Homo sapiens: one gene and its partners. The protein of the gene in region 1 interacts with the protein of each later gene in a pairwise test. Each region holds a gene or a part of one and is shown on either strand. Other genes may lie near its edges.

The links.
Region 2: the proteins of LEPROT (region 1) and YIPF1 interact in binary tests that used the Homo sapiens proteins (3 or more experiments, as listed by UniProt).
Region 3: the proteins of LEPROT (region 1) and SYNGR1 interact in binary tests that used the Homo sapiens proteins (3 or more experiments, as listed by UniProt).

What each region holds. Positions count from the first base shown.
Region 1 is NC_000001.11:65,429,104-65,436,507, forward strand, and holds the end of LEPROT (leptin receptor gene-related protein), read left to right. Parts: intron 1-758; coding exon 759-945; intron 946-2,699; coding exon 2,700-2,816; 3' UTR 2,817-6,904; downstream 6,905-7,404. UniProt on the Homo sapiens protein: Negatively regulates leptin receptor (LEPR) cell surface expression, and thus decreases response to leptin. Negatively regulates growth hormone (GH) receptor cell surface expression in liver.
Region 2 is NC_000001.11:53,879,798-53,886,797, forward strand, and holds part of YIPF1 (protein YIPF1), read right to left. Parts: intron 3,480-7,000; coding exon 3,316-3,479; intron 1-3,315.
Region 3 is NC_000022.11:39,380,991-39,386,075, reverse strand, and holds the end of SYNGR1 (synaptogyrin-1), read right to left. Parts: intron 4,381-5,085; coding exon 4,162-4,380; 3' UTR 501-4,161; downstream 1-500. UniProt on the Homo sapiens protein: May play a role in regulated exocytosis. Modulates the localization of synaptophysin/SYP into synaptic-like microvesicles and may therefore play a role in synaptic-like microvesicle formation and/or maturation.

The sequences.
Region 1 (7,404 bases):
TGCAGAAAGTTCAAAGAGGGTGGTATGTTCGAGGGTGACCTGGGGTACATTAGAATAGATGACCAGGGAAAGTTCTGCTTTTAGAAAGGAATCTGTCAGTTTAGATCACATGGTATGAAGGAGTCAGCCAATGAGAAGATCATGGGGAAGGACATTGCAAGCAGGGGGCACAGCTAGCGCAAAGGCCCCAGGATAACAGCTATGAGCTCAAGAGTGTTCAAGGGACAGAAAAAAGGCTGGTGTGGCTACAGATTAAGCAAATGAAGGGAAAAGAGTACAAAATGAATGGAAGAAGTAGATAATACCAGACCATAAAGGCTTTGTAGGCTAGGGCAAGGAATTTAGGGTTTATTCTAAGCTCTTAAAAGGTTTCAAGCATGCGTGCACTCAAAAGATCTTTACCGAACTAGCTTTTGCAAGACACTCTACTATGTTCTATAGGGAAGGCAGAAATGACCAAGTTAAAATTCTGTCTTTAAAGAAATTGTGGCTCAGTGGTACAGAAAACAGTAAAGTTTCTAGGGTATATATTATATAGTGGCTTCTTAACACAATATAAGCTACCTACATAGTAATTTTAAAATTATCACTACTTATCTATCCCTGGTAGAAATCATCTTATGTTCTAATATTCACAATTAATTAATTTTTTGACCTAAACATTTAAAATAGCAATGATTTTGAAATAGTAGTATGTCTTTCATTTAAAATGTAACTGTTACTTTTCTTTTTGGATTTTGCCTGGGTCCAACTGACAGCGTTTACTGGCCCTTATTCGTCCTGATTTTCCACGCCATCTCCCCCATCCCCCATTTCATTGCCAAAAGAGTCACCTATGACTCAGATGCAACCAGTAGTGCCTGTCGGGAACTGGCATATTTCTTCACTACTGGAATTGTTGTTTCTGCCTTTGGATTTCCTGTTATTCTTGCTCGTGTGGCTGTGGTAAGTTTTATTTTCTATTGTTTTGCCCAACCGTTGCTGAGTTTACTTCAGAGGCCTGTGTCTGGGACCTCCATTTCATGCTCATTACTTAGGCTTTATACTCAAGGCCGTGTGTTTTTAGTTTCTCTGTTCCTCTACTTTAGACCTGCCTAACAGTAGTTCGGCCATGCCTTCAGAGTGCTTTCTTTATTTCTCTTACAACTTTTAGCCAGACGATATGATTTCTTACTTTTTCTACTTTAAGCTATTCTCTGGAATTGTTCTTAAATTCCTGCCTCTTAAATCTTACAGTAATCCACAGATACTATGCTAGCAGTACTTTTCTAGTTGCAAGATGAAGATATTTCAAATTCTTCTCCTGCAAATGGGATCATGGACTCAACTCTCAACTCAGTATAATAGGTATATGTTGAGGGACAACTGTGTAGCTTCCAGAAAATGCAGTGAATAAGTTGACATCTTCACTTCCAAGACAAAAACTTTCTTTTTGTCTTCAGAGTACACATTGTAGGTATAATTTATTCAATTATTTGCTATTCACTGTCTTTCCTACTATTTGATTTTATTCCCTCCAATTACGTTCTATTTTAATTTTATGAAACTCTTATTTGAGGCATTGAATATCAGATAAGCGCAAGTCTTGTTCATTCAATAAATATCTTTGCAACAACTGCTACTTGTAAAACACCAGAAATAAGAAATAGGTACTGTCTCTGCTCCTGAGGAACACAGAAACTAGCTTGCTGGGTAAGTATACTATAAGTGTACTAAGTGAGACGGTTGAAGCATGATCAGAATGCCATAGGGGCACCAAGAAGAGAGAAATTCCGACTGGCATTTGATATGGGCCTCTAAGGATAAATAGCATTTGTATTGAGGTAGGATGGCTGTTGTATGGAATGACATTCAAGTGTAAGAATGCAGTATATAGAATAAAGAAGAATCCAGTGTGGTAGAGCTAAAAGAAAGTTGTTGAGGTTAAGGCTGGAAGGGTTGTGAAACCTGATTAGCAATGGTCTTGAACCCCATGCCAGTTTGATCTTTGTCTAGATAATGGGGAAAGATTGAAGGTTTTTGAATACAACAAGATTGTCATGACTTTATTTTTCTTGTGCTTTAGACCAGCCCTTCTTAAGCGCTGCAGTAAATATTTATATTTTTTCCTTTCAATACTGCCATCATATTTTGTGAAGAAACTTTCATTGATGTTTCTCTTGCTTAAAGTAAAACAAAAAATGCCCACTAGAGGGTACTCTCACCCCCAAATGTGCTTCTGTAAAACCATCTACAAACCATCTACTAAGCTGGAAAGCAGTTTTCAGTTGTATGAAGACTATTATTTAAAGTCTTTTCTTGCCTAGAAAAGAAACACACAAATTTATAACTCTACAATTTTTATTTTCCATGAAAGAAGTTGATGTGTGCAGAACTTTCAGTACCCAATATTGTAATTGCACTATTTATAATCTTACCACTTGAGTTTTACTTAAGGCAATCATTGTCAATTAAAAACAAGTAGAGAAATATGTCTAATTGGGAACATGTTAAGGATGATACCAGACTTAATTAACAAGCATCACAGAAGTAATTAGACTCATTACTGAACAGTTCATTGTCTCCTGTTACATTATTAAGCCTTTTAGCAGCTTTGTGTAACATTTCATTGGATGTTTCTAATGCAGAAAATAATAGGGATTGCAAAGAGTACAATATGAAGGAAGTAAGGATTTAATCCTTCTTTTCTTGTCTTTCAGATCAAATGGGGAGCCTGCGGCCTTGTGTTGGCAGGCAATGCAGTCATTTTCCTTACAATTCAAGGGTTTTTCCTTATATTTGGAAGAGGAGATGATTTTAGCTGGGAGCAGTGGTAGCACTTTATTCTGATTACAGTGCATTGAATTTCTTAGAACTCATACTATCTGTATACATGTGCACATGCGGCATTTTACTATGAAATTTAATATGCTGGGTTTTTTAATACCTTTATATATCATGTTCACTTTAAGAAAGACTTCATAAGTAGGAGATGAGTTTTATTCTCAGCAAATAGACCTGTCAAATTTAGATTATGTTACTCAAATTATGTTACTTGTTTGGCTGTTCATGTAGTCACGGTGCTCTCAGAAAATATATTAACGCAGTCTTGTAGGCAGCTGCCACCTTATGCAGTGCATCGAAACCTTTTGCTTGGGGATGTGCTTGGAGAGGCAGATAACGCTGAAGCAGGCCTCTCATGACCCAGGAAGGCCGGGGTGGATCCCTCTTTGTGTTGTAGTCCATGCTATTAAAAGTGTGGCCCACAGACCAAGAGCCTCAACATTTCCTAGAGCCTTATTAGAAATGCAGAATCTGAAGCCCCACTCTGGACCCAGGACATTTTGATGAGATCCAAAGGAGTTGTATGCACATGAAAGTTTGAGAAGCATCATCATAGAGAAGTAAACATCACACCCAACTTCCTTATCTTTCCAGTGGCTAAACCACTTAACCTCTCTGGGTGTTACCTGCTCATTTGTTTAAAAAAAAAAAAAAAGTCTCACCTGCTTTCATGCTGAGGACAAGTTCAGATGTTCAAGCCTATAATATTTAGGCAGTTCCTCAAATTTATGAAAAGTGTTCTCAGAATTGGGAGACAGTCAAAGGGTACAAAGCCTCAGTTAGGAGGAATAAGTGTGATTTTTTTTTAAAGATCACTTGCACAGCATGCTAAATATAGGAATAATTGAATGTATATTTCAATATTGCTAAGAGAGTAAATTTCTAATGTTCTCATAAAAAAGTTAAATATTTGAGATCATATGTTAATTAGTGTAATCATTCCACCTTATATTCAAAAATCATAAAACCGTATTGTACCCTATAAAAATATACAATAATTTGTCAATATATAATCAAAATAAAAAACAAAACATACTCTCTCCCCCAAAAAAACATCTCAGTGGGGAACAGATGTATCTTTTCATCTGAAAGACAATGCTGGGGGAAGAGCTCCACTGAGATGCGGGCAGGGAGGCTGGGCTCGAGCCAGCCCCTGCGTTAGCAGGAGGGGGAGAACAGATAGGTAACTCTTTTACATTTCCTTTATGATCTGGCACTTCTCCCCAGCTCCTTCCCTCTGCCCCCCACCCCTACTCCTCAACAGTTCTGGTTTGCCCTGACTTCTCTACGGCTCTGGCTTCTTCCCGAAGAGATATAGGAGCCATGTAAGCACGCAGTGGGTGAACTGCTTAATTTCACTACGTGTTGATGTACTTGTCTTCCGTCCTGTAGGTCTTTTCTATATAACTTTATGCCACCCTTAAATGAATCATTGGGTATACCTGTCATGTTGGATCCTGTAATCACAGTTTTCCCTGCTCACCTTTTTGTCTAAGATCTATTGAGAAAGGGAAATATGGGAAGGAGAACCATTTGATCAGAATACAACCAATAGTCTTTAAGCATTGTTAAAGTATGAAACTGAAATACATTCAAAACACTTAATCCTTGAGGCTTGTGATCTGAGTAATTAGCAGGTATGATGCTGGGACTGGAAAATAGAAAGTAATAACTAAAGGGTTAATGTGCAACGTTATTTTTTGGCCTTGTTCATGATTTTATGTTTTCAGTGTCCTGTGTACATATAGAATTGTTAAAGTTGTCATTTCCAATATTTATATTAGAAAAATTATTTAGATACTTTATAATTTTAACCGGCATTTTTAATAATGACACTTGCATTTATTGTATTGTAATAAATTTCACTTTTAACTTTAAAAGTTTAACTTTAAAATTTTTTTGTGATGTTGCCTTGCCTGAAAAGATAACAAAAATGAGAGAATTTCTTGATGTTTTAAAATGGGCAGTTTTGAGCAATAATCTGTCCTAACAGAACAGTAGCAATAAGTTTTAGGATACCATCTTGAATGTCTAGTTGGTGTGCAATAGCTTTTCTTTCTAAGATGGCAATAATGATTCATTTCTACTACATTTTGCAAAAGTGTTTTTGTTGCTTATACACATTTTCAATAACCAAGGTAGCCTTCATATGTAGCCTTAAAGCATTACCTCTTGATTGTATCTTTAGATTGATATAAAGTACTTGCATATAGAGTATTTGAAGTGATAGATTATTAGATTTGCTCTATGTCTGAAAAGAGAGCTATTCTGCAGTGCCTAAATATCATTTAAACAGTAAATATTAATAGGAAATATTGCTATATCTGAATATATAATACAAAAGTTTGATCATGGTGACACAAATGTTGGACATTTTTTTCCTTATAAAAGGCTCTTTTTTTATATATTGTACAATATATTTGGAGATTCAGAGCATAGTGACTATAGTCGAAAACTGAGATTGCACTTCCAAAATTGGCCACAAGTAAATAATCTTATGAAGGGATTCTTTATCATGTTTCAAACAAGTGGGTTACAAGCAGACTTTGAGACACTTTTCCACAGAAACAATACTATGAATTGGTGATTGAGTTCCCAGGCCAAGCCTCCCTCAACAGGTTCAACTCTAATATACCTAACCTGTGATACTGAAGGTGCCTGCCTGAGTTTTGGGTCTCTGAGACAGGGTAGTGTGAGTAGTTTGGAGGAAGGACAGTGCAACTTTCCACCCCTTTTCCTAAGAACAAGGTCTTTCTCCTTTTAATTTTTCCACTCATTTTCACCTCCTAATGCCCTTGAGATCCAGGTACACTCCTGGGAGTTTTGTTCACCTCTCCCAACTGAGAACCTTCCCACTGGGCTCCATCCTCCCTCCTGAGGTTCTTCATATTCCAGAGTCACCCACCCTTCTCCTCCCATTAGTCAGTTCTCTAAGTACAGCTGATGTCATGTGGTGCTGAGAAGAAAGCAGATCACACTTCATCACAGAAAGAATGCCTTGTGATTATCTTCTCCACATCTGAAATTCCTTTTGACACCTGCATTGGGCCGACTGCCATTCCCATGACTGCTGCACCTGCGTTTTTAGAGAATGCCTCATAACCCACTGATTCTCATTCACAGAGAATGGGAGAACGGAATGAAGAAAGATTCCAGCAGCTTATAGAAGGATAGCAATATTTTGGGACAGGGAAAATCCTGTCATACCTCATCTCTTCCTCAGGAGGAGTTCTGAGCTGGTCCTGCTTTTCATAGTTGTTTCTTTTCTTCCACTTAAGAACTCATAGATTTTTCTTACTGTCCTAAGGAAGTCCTTACCTCTGAGGTATCTCCTCAATGAATACTGTTTTCAAGGCTGAAATAGTTCATTATGTTAATAACCTTCTTTATGTTCTCAGGGAAATGCTTAGGTGGTGTCACAAAATGTGCCTTTTCTTTTCTTTTTTTTTTTTTTTTTTTGAGGCAGAGTCTCGCTCTGTTGCCCAGGCTGGAGTGCAGTGGTGCGATCTTGGCTCACTGCAAGCTCCGCCTCCCGGGTTCACGCCATTCTCCTGCCTCAGCCTCCCAAGGAGCTGGGACTACAGGCTCCCGCCACCACGCCTGGCTAATTTTTTTGTATTTTTAGTAAAGACGGGTTTCATCGTGTTAGCCAGGATGGTCTCGATCTCCTGACCTCATGATCCGCCCGCCTCTGCCTCCCAAAGTGCTGGGATTACAGGCCTGAGCCACTGTGCCCAGCCAAAATGTGCCTTTGCAAAGTTTGCGAAATCAGATTTTGTATCCCAATAGAACCAAAATATTTATGAGGATGCTAGCATTTTCCAAGCATAGTAATTAGTTCACAACTGAGAAATATTATGTCTGTAGTAGATAAATATTAGTTGTGCATTTTAATTTAATTCTCCTTTTTCCATTTTGTCTCATGAAGTACCTTATTGCAAAAATCCCACTGAGTAATAGCTCATAAATTATAATCTTTCAAATAGCCATGCTACCAGCGTACAACAGTGATACATGTAACCCCAAATGTGATGTGAGAGGACGATTACTTTGTAAATAAAACTTGTTATTGACATTTTAACAAAGGCTTTTATGTACATTATTAAATGAAAAAGTTTATATTTTACTTTGCGGTACGTTACATTTGGAAAGGAGATCAGCAAGTTAATTTTCCCAGTGTTTTTGTCTGTATAATCTTAATGTGAATCTGACCAGTTTGAAGCCTGTACTTGCTGTAGTTGAAGAGAAACAGTTCAGGAATGTTGTGCTGACTGGAAGGAATCCAGGCCTTAATTTCTGTGGCTGACACTCCCCATGGTGGACATGGAAGATTGGAAAAGCTGTATTGGAAAAGAAAAAAACCTGACACCTTAAGAAAAGTGCTCTACATATTTTGAAGAGTCTTTTTGCACACTACAGAAAAGAATGCACTAATAGAAAGTAGTCTTTAAGGAATAATATGTCCTCCTTATGCACAAAACATTTGGGAAAGATCTGATGTTTTACTAGTGGATTTAGGCAGCCAGATTGTAAAGAAATCAAGCTAGTTATTTCTTTGCATTGCCAAGCTAAGTGTAAAGT
Region 2 (7,000 bases), about 12 Mb from region 1:
GAATGAATTCAGCACCTTCAACTGAAATACCCAGGTTCTTGCATTGGGACTGACTAGGCAAGTAGCTCGACCCACGGAGAATGAAGAAAAGCAGGGTGGGGCGATGGCTCACCCAGGAGCAGCACGGAGACAAAGGAACACCCATCCCCAACCAAGGAAAGCATTCCCCTTGAAAACCAGCACAAGACATGGATGCCCTCTCTTATCACTCCTATTCAATAGTATTAGAAGTTCTGGCCAGGGCAATCAGGGAAGAGAAACAAATAAAGGGTATTCAAATAGGAAGAGGGTATTCAAATAGGAAGAGAGTAAGTCAAATCACCTTTGTTTGCAAGATGACATGTTTCTATATCTAAAAAACCCCATCATCTCAGCCCAAAAGCTTCTTAAGCTGGTAAGCAACTTCAGCAAAGTCTCAGGATACAAAATCAATGTGCAAAAATTGTTAGTATTCCTATACACCGACAACAGGCAAGCAGAGGGCCAAATTATGAATGAACTCTCGTTCTTTTGTATGAATGAACTGCTACAAAAAGAATAAAATACCTAGGAACAAGGGAAGTAAAGGACCTCTTCAAAGAAAACTATAAACTACTGCTCAAAGAAATAAGAGAGGACACAAACAAATGGAAAAACATTCCATGCTCATAGTTAGGAAGAATCAGTATTGTGCAAATGGCATACTGCCCAAAGTAATTTATAGATTCAATGCCACTCCCAGTAAACTACCATTGACATTCTTCACGGAATTAGAAAAAAACTATTTTAAAATTCATATGGAATCAAAAGAGAGCCCAAATAGTCAAGACAATCCTAAGCAAAAAGAACAAAGCTGGAGGCATCATGCTACCTGACTTCAAACTAAACTACAAGTCTACAGTAACCAAAACAGCATGGTACTGGTACAAGAACAGACACATAGACCAATGAAACAGAACAGAGAACTCAGAAATAAGAATGCACGTCTACAACCATCTGATCTTCGAAAAACCTGACAAAAACAAGCAATGGGGAAAGGATTCCCTATTCAATAAATAGTGCTGGGAGAACTGGCTAGCCATATGCAGAAAACTGAAACTGGACCCCTTCCTTATACCATAAGCAAAAATTAACTCAAGGTGGATTAAAGACTTAAATGTAAAACACAAAACTAAAAAAACCCTAGAAGAGAATCTAGGGAATACCAGCTGGGCGCGGTGGCTCATGCCTGTAATCCCAGCACTTTGGGAGGCCAAGATGGGTGGATCATGAGGTAAGGAGTTCGAGACCAGCCTGGCCAATATGGTGAAACCCCGTCTCTACTAAAAATACAAAAATTAGTTGGGCATGGTGGCACGTGCCTGTAGTCCCAGCTGCTTGGGAGGCTGAGGCAGGAGAATCGCTTGAACCCAGGAGGCGGAGGTTGCAATGAGCCTCCAGCCTAGGCGACAAAGCAAGACTCCATCTCAAAAAAAAAAAAAAAAAGAAAAAGAAAGAAAATCTAGGGAATACCAATCAGGACATAGGCATGGGCAAAGATTTCATGATGAAAACACCAAAAGCAATTGCAACAAAAGCAAAAATTGACAAATGGGATCTAATTAAACTAAAGAGCTTCTGCACAGCAAAAGAAACTATCTTCAGAGTGAACAGACAACCTACAGAATGAGAGAAAATTTTTGCAATCTATCCATCTAACAAAGGTCTAATATCCAGAGTCTACAAAGTACTTAAGCAAATTTACAAGGAAAAAACAACTCCATTAAAAAGTGGGCAAGGGACATGAACAGACACTTCTCAAAAGACATACATGTGGCCAAAAAACATATGAAAGAAAGCTCAATATCTTGATTTGAGAAATGCAAATCAAAACCACAATGAGACACCATATCATGCCAGTCAGAATGGTGATTATTAAAAAGTCAAGAAACAACAGATGCTAGTGAAGTTGCGGAGAAAAAGGAATGCTTTTACACTGTTGGTGGGAGTGTAAATTAGTTCAACCATTGTGGAAGACAGTGTGGCGATTCCTCAAAGACCTAGAGGCAGAAATACTATTTGACCCAGCAATCCCATTACTGGGTATATACCCAGAGAAATATAAATCATTCTATTATAAAGATACATGCACATTTATGTTCACTGCAGCACTATTCACAATAGCAAAGATACGGAATCAACCTAAATGCCCATCAATGATAGACTGGATAAAGAAAATATGGTATATATACAACCATGGAATACTACGCAGCCAGAAAAAGGAATGAGATCATGTCCTTTGCAGGGACATGGATGGAGTTGGAAGCCATTATCCTTAGCAAACTAACACAGGAACAGAAAACCAAACACCACATCTTCTCACTTATAAGTGGGAGCTGAATGGTGAGAACACATGGACACATGGGAGGGGGAGCATCAGGAAGAAGAGCTAATGGATGCTGGGCTTAATACCTAGGTGATGGGGTGATCTGTGCAGCAAACCACTGTGGCACATGTTTACCTATGTAACAAACCTGTACCTCCTGCACATGACCCCTGAAGTTAAAATAAAAGTCGAAGAAAAAACATTAAAGAAAAACATTTTCACAATTAAAGTCGACAGTGGCAGCAACTGCCTTACATGGTGGTAAACAGCCCATTCCTGGAGGTACTCAAGCAAGTGTTTTCAATCTTTCCTTTTTTTTTTTTTCTTTCTTCTGGAGACAGGGTCTCACTCTGTTGCCGAGGCTGGAGTGTAGTGGTGCAATCTCAGCTCACTGCAACCTCTACTCCCCAAGCTCAAGCAATCCTCCCACCTTAGTTTCCCGAGTAGCTGGGGCTACAGGTGTCCACCACCATACTCGGCTAATATTTTGTACTTTTTGTAGAGGTGGAGTTTCACCATGTTGCCCAGGCTGGTCTCGAACTCCTGGGCTCAAGTGATCTGCCCGCCTCAGCCTCCCAAAATGCTGGGATTATATGCGTGAGCCACCACGCCTGGCTCCAAGTGTTATCTTTCCTACATAGCAAGGACAGCATCAATATCTCAGGAGAGAGGCTAAAACAGAGGGCCATGAAGGTTCTTTCCTACTCTAATATTAGAAAATATTGAGCATGGGAGTCCCACATTCCATAAGCTAGGATCTCTGCTCACTACCCCAGTGTTCCCCTCCACAAGTGTACTTACGGAAAGTAATGGTCTGTTTGCCTGTTTCCCCCACCAAGGAAGAGGCCATGTGTCATTTACCTCTGAGCTGTCATTGCCTGACACTGTACCTGGCACACAGTAGACAGTGAATAAGCACATAAACAAGCTTTAAAAATTGTTTAAAAAATATCTCAAAGACAAGTTCAAACCTCAGTTTTGTCAGAGTCATCATTTCCCAGTAACTCATCATCTTCTTCTCTTCCTGAGCCTCTTGGGGATCCTGGCTGATGTTTTGGGGTTTCACCAGGATCCTCAATGTTTACTGTGGTGGCATCTGGGTTTGCTGTCAGAGAAGTGGCTGCATTGCCAAATTCTGAAATCAATTAGAGCACACGGGCCTCAGAAACCTTACCCACACTAGAAATGCTATACTTTGAATTTAAAGACAAGCTGTCACAACCTCAGCTTTGCTATAGACCCTACCTGATACAAAGGGCAAAAGCTTTGAAAAACAAAAAATCTCATCAGGAGATCAATCTGATATAGAAAAATGACTATGAAGACAACAGAATTTGGAGTCAGACCTAGATTTTGGTTCTGGCTCAGCTAGCCACTTACTAAATACACAAGCCTGAGTAAGTAACTAAACCCCTCTAAACCTCAGTGTTTTCATCTGTATCATGGGGAGAATAACATTTATTTTAAATAATTTTGGGAGAACAAGGAATATAATCTAAGTCCTAAACTTTACTTCTTTGATTCAAGTCCAAAAAATTTTAATGAAGGTTATTTTTTCCAGTAAGTCTACATAATCACTACAGAAAATATGGGAACAAAAATGAAAGTGGGATCAGCTGCGCACAGTGACTCACGCCTGTAATCCCAGCACTTTGGGAGGCCAAGGCAGGCGGATCACCTGAGGTCAGGAGTTCGACCAGCCTGGCCAACATGGTGAAATGCTGTCTCTACTAAAAATACAAAAATTAGCCGGGTGTAGTGGCACATGCCTTGTAATCCCAGTTATGCTGGAGGCTGAGACAGGAGAATCACTTGAACCCAGGAGGCAAAGGTTGCAGTGAGCCGAGATCACACCACTGCACTCCAGCCTGTGTGACAGAGTGAGACTATGTCTCAAAAAAAAAGGAAAAAAGAAAGTAGAAATCACAGGATAAAAACCACTCTTAGGCCAGGCATGGTGGCTCATGTCTATAATTCCAGCACTTTGGGAGGCCAAGGCAAGAGGACTGCTCGAGCCTCAGAGGTAGAGGCTGCAGTGAGCCGTGATCATACCACTGTACTCCAGCCTGGGCAAGAGAGTAAGACTTTGTCTCAAAAAAAAAAAAAAAAACCCAAAAAACAAAAAAACACTCTTAGTTCTACCACATAAAGGCAAACACTATTAACATTTTAGTATATTTCCTTTTCTTCACATAGTGAGATTCATGCCACTGATGATCATTCATTTATTCAACAAATATTTACTGCATGCCCACAATGTGCCAAGTACTGATCTAGAACATGATACTATAATTAATTTTGCATCCTGCTTTGTCAAGATTATGTAAAATTGGGGATTATACACAAAAATGATTTTTCATATAACAGTCTCTTAAAATGATCACTTATGTGACTGCATAATATTCCATCAATGAAGGTTTTCTTACAAATACAAAAGGAGTGTCTGTGTAGAAAAAGCTTTTTGGGGGGCAGCCTTAAGATGAACACCTATCAGTGTGATCACTAGGTCAACAGGGTGCAAACCATTTTCAAGGATCCTGAACCATGTTACCAAACTGCTTTCCAAAAGAACCTTACCTACTTGTGTCCACCAGCAGTGATTGAGACTTCCTGTCTCCGAATATCCTAACATACTTTATTTCAGCTGCTCTTGAATAAAATTCAGGGCAGCTCTGAACCTTCGAAGGCCAAAGGAAGAGTGCCAGCAGGGCACCATTATAACACTACAAGCAGGGCACCAGTCCTAGCAGTAGGACAGCTGAGTTCACTCTTATTGCCTCTCAACTATATGAGCAGTTTTATGGAGAACACTAAAGTGACTGAAATTAATCAGGTAGCTAATATGCAACAATTACTGAAGCCTCAATTGGCAATGTTTGGGTAGTTTAAGCAACATGAGGTTCTGGAGTGAGATGGTCCTTTGTTCAAGGTAAGACTCTTAATACTCAGTAGCTCCATGACCTTGAGCAAATTACTCCATGGCTCTGAGTCTCTGTTTCTTCAATTATAAAACATAGATAATACCTACCCCACAAAGAGATTTTGAGGATGATGAAATAATAACTATCATTACAGGTACCTCTTATTGATTGTACAGGGCAATGACATTTAAAAAGATAGTCACAACTTTGCTGGAGGGAATTAGACCAAGGAAGATATACTTAACTCTCACAGTTAAAAAGCAGTAGTTAAAATAACTAGAAAAGTATAACTGAAGCTGGGCGTGGTGGCACACACAAACTGGTGGTCCCAGCTACTTGGGACGCTGAGGCAGGAGAATCGCTTGAACCCAGGAGGCAGAGGTTGCAGTGAGCCGAGATCGCACCACTGCACTCCAGCCTGGCAACAGAGTGAGACTCTGTCTCACAAAAAAAGAAAGAAAAGTAAAGTATAACTGGGCTGGATGCAGTGGCTCACGCCTGTAATCCCAGCACTTTGGGAGGCTGAGGCGAGCAGATCACTTGAGGTCAGGAGTTCGAGACCAGGCTGGCCAACATGGTAAAAACCCATCTCTACTAAAAACATAAAAATTAGCTAGGCATGTTGGTGGACACGTGTAATCCCAGCTACTCAGGAGGGTGAGGCACAAGAATCGCTTGAAATGGGAGGTGAAGGATGCAATGATCTGAGATCATGTCACTGCACTCCAGCCTGGGTGACAGAGCGAGACTCGGTCTCAAAAAAAAAAAAAAAAAAAGAGAGAAAAAGAGTATAATTGGATTGTTTGTAATACAAAGGATAAATGCTTGAAGTGATGGACACCCTGTTTACCCTGATGCAATTACTACACATTACATGCCTGTATCAAAATATATGAGTGTACCCTGTAAGTATATATACCTACTACATACCCATGAAAATTAAAAAATTTTTAAAAAGCAGTAGTTTACCAGGGGGAAGGAATGCCAGAAGGAGGAACAGACAGTACCACTTTAGAAGCACAAAGGTCAAAAAGGCCCCAAGGAGGGCGATAACTCCTCTAGTTATTGGGATCAGGAAAGGTTTCTTGGAGAAGATACCATATGAGAAGGATGGCCAGAGGTGCTGGGGATGGCATCTCATGCAAAGGGAAGGGGATGAGCAAGACCCAGAAGATGGAAAGTGTGCCCGTGATGGAGGGACAGTGACGGCATAGTTTGACTGGAGTGTGGGCTGCGTGTACCCCTAACATGACGACTCTTCACACAGTCTGCTCTGTGCTGGTTATTCTTGTCCATCTCAGCTCCTTGAGCATAAAACTGGTATGTGTCTTATTTCTGCCACCAACATTCTCTGCTTTTACATCCTGGCATATCCTAAGCTAGTTTCAGCCTCTGCTCCTTTCCTGAAACAATGCCTTTCACCTGAAGGCTTCTGACCTCTACTTTTTCATCCAATACTACCGTTCCTCCCCGGAGAAGCCTTTCATGACCCACCCCCCGCCACCCCACCCCCAGCATCCTGTGTGCTTTTCTAAAGACCCAAGTCCTTAACACAGTTGATAAAGCCCTGGGTGATTTGTCACCTGCCTCCTCCTAAGCCTCACCTTGTGTCAGCTTTCCCCACCATCCGTGATCTGGAACACAAGTGTTCTCCCAATCCTTTAGGAAAAAAATTAAACTTCCTCACTCCACAGGGGCTTTTGCGAGGGCCACTGTCTTTAAACTTTCTTGCACT
Region 3 (5,085 bases), on another chromosome or scaffold:
GCTTCAACTGTAATAATTTTCCTTTTTTTTTTTAGATGGATTTTTGCTCTTGATGCCAAGGCTGGAGTGCAATGGCACAATCTTGGCTCACTGCAACCTCTGCCTCCCCGGTTCAAGTGATTCTCCTGTCTCAGCCTCCCGAGTAGCTGGGATTACAGGCGTCTGCCACCACACCCGGCTAATTTTTTTTTTTTTTTGTATTTTTAGTAGAGACAGGTTTTCACCATGTCGGTCAGGCTGGTCTCGAACTCCTAACCTCAGGTGATCCACCCACCTTGGCCTCCCAAAGTGTTGGGATTACAGGCATGAGCCACTGCAGTCGGCCAATTTTACTTTTTAAAAAGATAATATATTCATAGGTTCATTGTGTAATGAAAAATTAACAAACAATAATAACCAAGTAAGACATGGCCTGTCTAAGGAGACAAACGGGATGGAGCATCCAAGCCAAACGCAGAATGAAGAACAAAGAAACACGGTGACACACTTGCAATCGCTGGTGGGTTCTGAGTCTTCACTTTATTACTATGTCACCAGAAGTCACCACCTTCACTTGGTTCACCACAGATGGATGGATGTCATAAAGGAGGGTGCCACGGGGCCACTGGATTCACTCGAGACTTAACCAGGTGGTGGGGGGGTCTAGAGTGGGGGCCCAGGATGGGGACCGCCCTTCACCGCACACACACGCACACACACACACAGATATATTTGTGGAGCCTTATATTATACATCTTATATATAGAAAATATATATATTTATACTATACACAGGCAGTAACGCTGCGGGAGGGGCCGGGGCACCGACAAGGGCTGTGCGCACCAGGACATGGGGAGTGTCAGGTCAAGTGCATCGCTGGGAGGCAGCCGGCCCAGTCCCTTCTCCCATAAACTCCTGGGAGGGGCATTCCCCCTTTCGTGCTCCTTAGAGAATCAAAGGGGTCTTGGGCCAAGGTTAGGGGTCTCCCAGGGCTAACAGGCAGGGTGTCTCAGTTACATGGGGAAACCTGGGATCCCCGAGGCTTTGAAGATCAAGAATCACCAGGGAAGGATGGAGTAGGGAACTAACGTCAGTCCCCTGGGAATTAGCCCCTCAACTGCGACACCCCCAGGTGGATAGGAGCCGTGCAGGCAGGACAGTCTGTGACTGCCCAGGATGAGCCAACTCAGAAGGCAGAAGACCTGACTCCTGAACCTCTCCCTCTGTGCTTGACCTTGGACAAGTCGCTGTCTCCCTACCCCAGACTCTGCCGACTCTAAGCGTCCTTGCGACTCTACACTTATGTGAAACCTTTTTTCCTGGGCCCTCTCTTGTGCTTGATGGGGAGGAGGGAGCCACCCTGCAGGGTCCAGCTGCAGGAGGGCCCTTCTCCAAGGAAAGCTTTGGGAGCAAGGGAGAAGTAGGGGAGGGCAGCTGGGAGGAAAAGGGATACCGGACAGAGTTGGGCCTGGGGTTCCCCAGGGGCTGTCCTCTGCCAACAGAAGGAGCGAGTTTCCCCATGAACCTTCCAGGGCAGAGTCAGGAGCCCTGGGTCCCATCCAAATCTCGCCCTCCATCTCTCACCCTCTCTCATCTCCATCCTGGGCAGGTCCCTGCCAGAGCCCAGCCTGATGGGGAAGATCATGCCTGGAAGGGCTTCTGGGCTGAACCCGGGAAGAGTGAGGGATTCTTCGTGAGATGACTCAGCACCCCCCATTCCTGGCAGGAGTCTTGACAGCTTTCCCTGCCTAGGGTGGCAGGCAGGGCCTGTCACAAACACCCAAGATGGAGTTAAGCTTACCTGGTACCCTGCCCTCCGGCTGAGGATCACCAGCAGCTGGCTGGCACCCGAGGAGAAACAGATGGGCAGTACCCTGAGGTCTCCTAGTGCCCATCAGCAGGAGAGGCTTTTGGTGGACAGTGGGTGAGGGTCAGAACATCTCACAGCCTCTTGTGGTGGGCACAGAACTTCACTCTGCCATAAACACTCCTGCCCTCACTCACGCCCTCACCTTTGGCCTGGTACAGGTTTCACTCTTCAGGCCAACAGATAACCTGCCCCCATGCTGGTCCCATGTGGGCCACCTGGCGGCGGGGGACTGTGGACAGAGCCCCTTCTCCGGATTGGAAAATGAAGTCAGCAACAACCAGCTGTCACACAGCTGGCTGGGGTCCTCTCCATCACTGCTGTCCTTTGGGAGGACTTGGACACACCTGAGTTTAGATCCGTGTTCCACTGCCAACTCGCCTATGCTTGCCGAGCCTCAGTTTCCCTTCTGTTAAATGGGGATAATGGTGCTACTTCTCTGCTTAGGACTTCCTCCTCTTTCCCTTAACTCTGGCCCAGCTTTGGGGCCATCGAAGCAGGGACCACCCATGCCCTTGGTATCTCCAGCACAGGGGCCGGGTAACTGCTGAGTGAGTAAGCAGGTGAGGGATCGCCTGCCTCTTAGGATTCTTAGATGGGGGATGGGGGGATGGTGGTGAAAACACCCAGCACTGGGCCCGTCCACCACCTGCTCTGCTCTGCTCCCTGAAGGACAGGCCAGTGGACACTGGGTGGACAGGGGGATGGGCCCCCAGCGCTCTCCCATACCTCCCTGTCCCTTATGGCTCAGTGAAGAGCCCACCTTGTGCAAGAATCGACCTGCCCCCACTCAGAAGAGATTATGACCTCCTCAGGCCCCACGGCCCTCTTTGGGCCTTTGGGTCACCTGCCACACTCTCCCCTACAGCCCATGGTCTTCCCTGGGCCTCCCATGCCTCAGGGGCTCTTGCCTGTGTCATCCTGGGGGCAGTGTCTCTCCACGGCCACAGCCCAGGAGCCGACCTGGCTGATTCCAAAGCCCTGTCCTTGCCGCTCTGCCTCCCATAGGGAGGCTGGCTCCACAGTGGGCCTTCTGGAAGGCCAAGGAAACACCTCTCATGCGCTTGGCTGCTGCAGCCCCCGAACCCTGACTGACCCCAGATGAGAGGAGAGGTGACATAGTGTCCCAGATCAGTTCTGTTTCCTGGGAGGTCACAAGGGCAGGGAATCGAGGCACCTGCTGGGCAGCTGGGGCCAAGAAACCCAGGCGTCAGGGCCAGCTTTGCCACTCACTCACCGTGACCTCGGGCCAGTCACACCCTCATCTGTGCCTTGTTGTCCACCCAGCCCTAGGTAAGGGCTTAGTGACCCCTCCTAGAGGCAAGGACAGTGATCAGTCCTTTGAGAGACCACGAAGGGGTTTGCTGGAGCCCCCTGGAACAAGCGTCTGTGGGACACGCAGAGCACAGAGCAGCACCCGGGGTGAGCCCTCTTGGAGGAGGCCAAGGGCCAGGGGTAGGACCAGGGGGATGTGGGTGGAGGGACCCGGAGGTGGGGCTGTCCCCAGGGGAGGAGGAACAGCTGGGGCAGAACAGGCCCTTGGCATGCAGCAGAATCAGGGTGTCTCAAGGGGCTGAGGGCCCCAAGGCCTCCCAGAATGACAGTAACACTGAGCAGGGAAGCCCCAAGCGTGGGGATGGTAGGAGGTGGGTGGCCAGGGAAGAGCACGTGGTCTGCAGTCGGGCAGCCTGGGCTTGGCCCCACCTCTATCACTAGCTGCCTGAGTGATTCTGGGCAAGTAATCTTGACCTCTCTAGACCTCAGTTTCCTCAACCATAAAATGGAGACGGCCCTGACACTCTTAGCAGGACTGCCAGAGCAGGGTGACAGCCCCCAGTGTCCTGTGGGTGTTTACACTCACCCTATGACCAAGCCACGGTGTAGCCACACTTCCCAGCATTATCTGGATCTGTCTTTCCCACCATTCTGGCCTCTGGTACCACCAGGGCTTCCTCCACAGCTCATCGCTCCCCTTTCCAGTGGCCATTTCTGCCAATGTCACCACCCATGCCCAGCACAGGCCGGATGCCCAGTAGGCGCTCAAGGAATGCTTGATGACACAATGTATGAATGCAAATACCCCTGGCCCCCACCCTCTAGGCCCCTGCGGGGCACATGCCCTGGGATATACTTGCACATACGTAGACAGTCCCCAACACTGGACTGCCCCACCCCTGCCCCGAGCTACCCTGGACCTCAGTGGGACAAGGCAGAGGCTGATGAGGCGCTGGGCAGGGCAGCCTGGGCAGGAGCAGGGGCTGGGTGTGGAGAGAGGGGACAGATGGGGAGGGGCGGGGGCAGGCGGTCACTGTGGCTCAGTAGCCCTGCGACTGGTAGCCCTGGGGCTCGGTGTCGAAGGTGTTGGCCGGCTGCTGGTAGGTGCCGCCCATACCGGCGGGATCCGGCCCAGTGGGCTCCACGTAGGGCGCGTAAGGCATGCTGGAGTCCTGGCTGGGGTCCATGTAGTCCTGGGAGAAGAGGGCCGAGTCGGCGCCAATCTGGTACCGCTGGAAGGCCAGCACAGCCTGGCCCGCCTGGGGACAAAGGCCGGCGAGGACAAGGACAGGCGGGAGGGGGTGGTTAGGGGAGAGACAGACAAGAGCACTGGGTTAGTGGTGGTTAGTTCACAGGACACAGGCAGGAGAGGGTTAAAGATCCTCAAAGCACCAAACATGAGACCAAGCTTGGCTGTGGAGAAGGAAGGCTGTTCTCGCAGCCACCCCCGGAAATGCCCAGAACCATATCATCCAGCCAGAAAGTACCCCAGAAATCACCTGCCCCTGTCTCCCAATCCCAGAGGTCAGTCTGGGCTACCAAAAGTTCTAGATCTCCATTATGGAGTGTTAAGATGGCTCAAAGGCTCACAACAGCCTTCTTAAAAAAAGCTTCTCAGCGGGACAAAGGACTGTTAGCATCTCCTAAGAGTCATTCTTTTGTCTCTCTTGCAGCTAGGCATGGCCATGTGACTACGTTTTGGCCAATGGGGTACCCTCATGTTCTCTGTCCCACCCTCTGACCTGATGCCTGGAACACAGATGTGATGGCTGGAGCTCTAATTGCCAAAAGGGACCACAAAGACCATGAGCCAAGTCTGTAGGAATGAAAGATGCCTGGGGGCCATGCACCGCGGCTCATGCCTGTAATCCCACAACTTTGATAGGCCAAGGTGGAAGGATTGCTTGAGGCCAGGAGATCAAGACCAGCCTGGGCTAAAATATGCACCTCTGGCATATTGACTA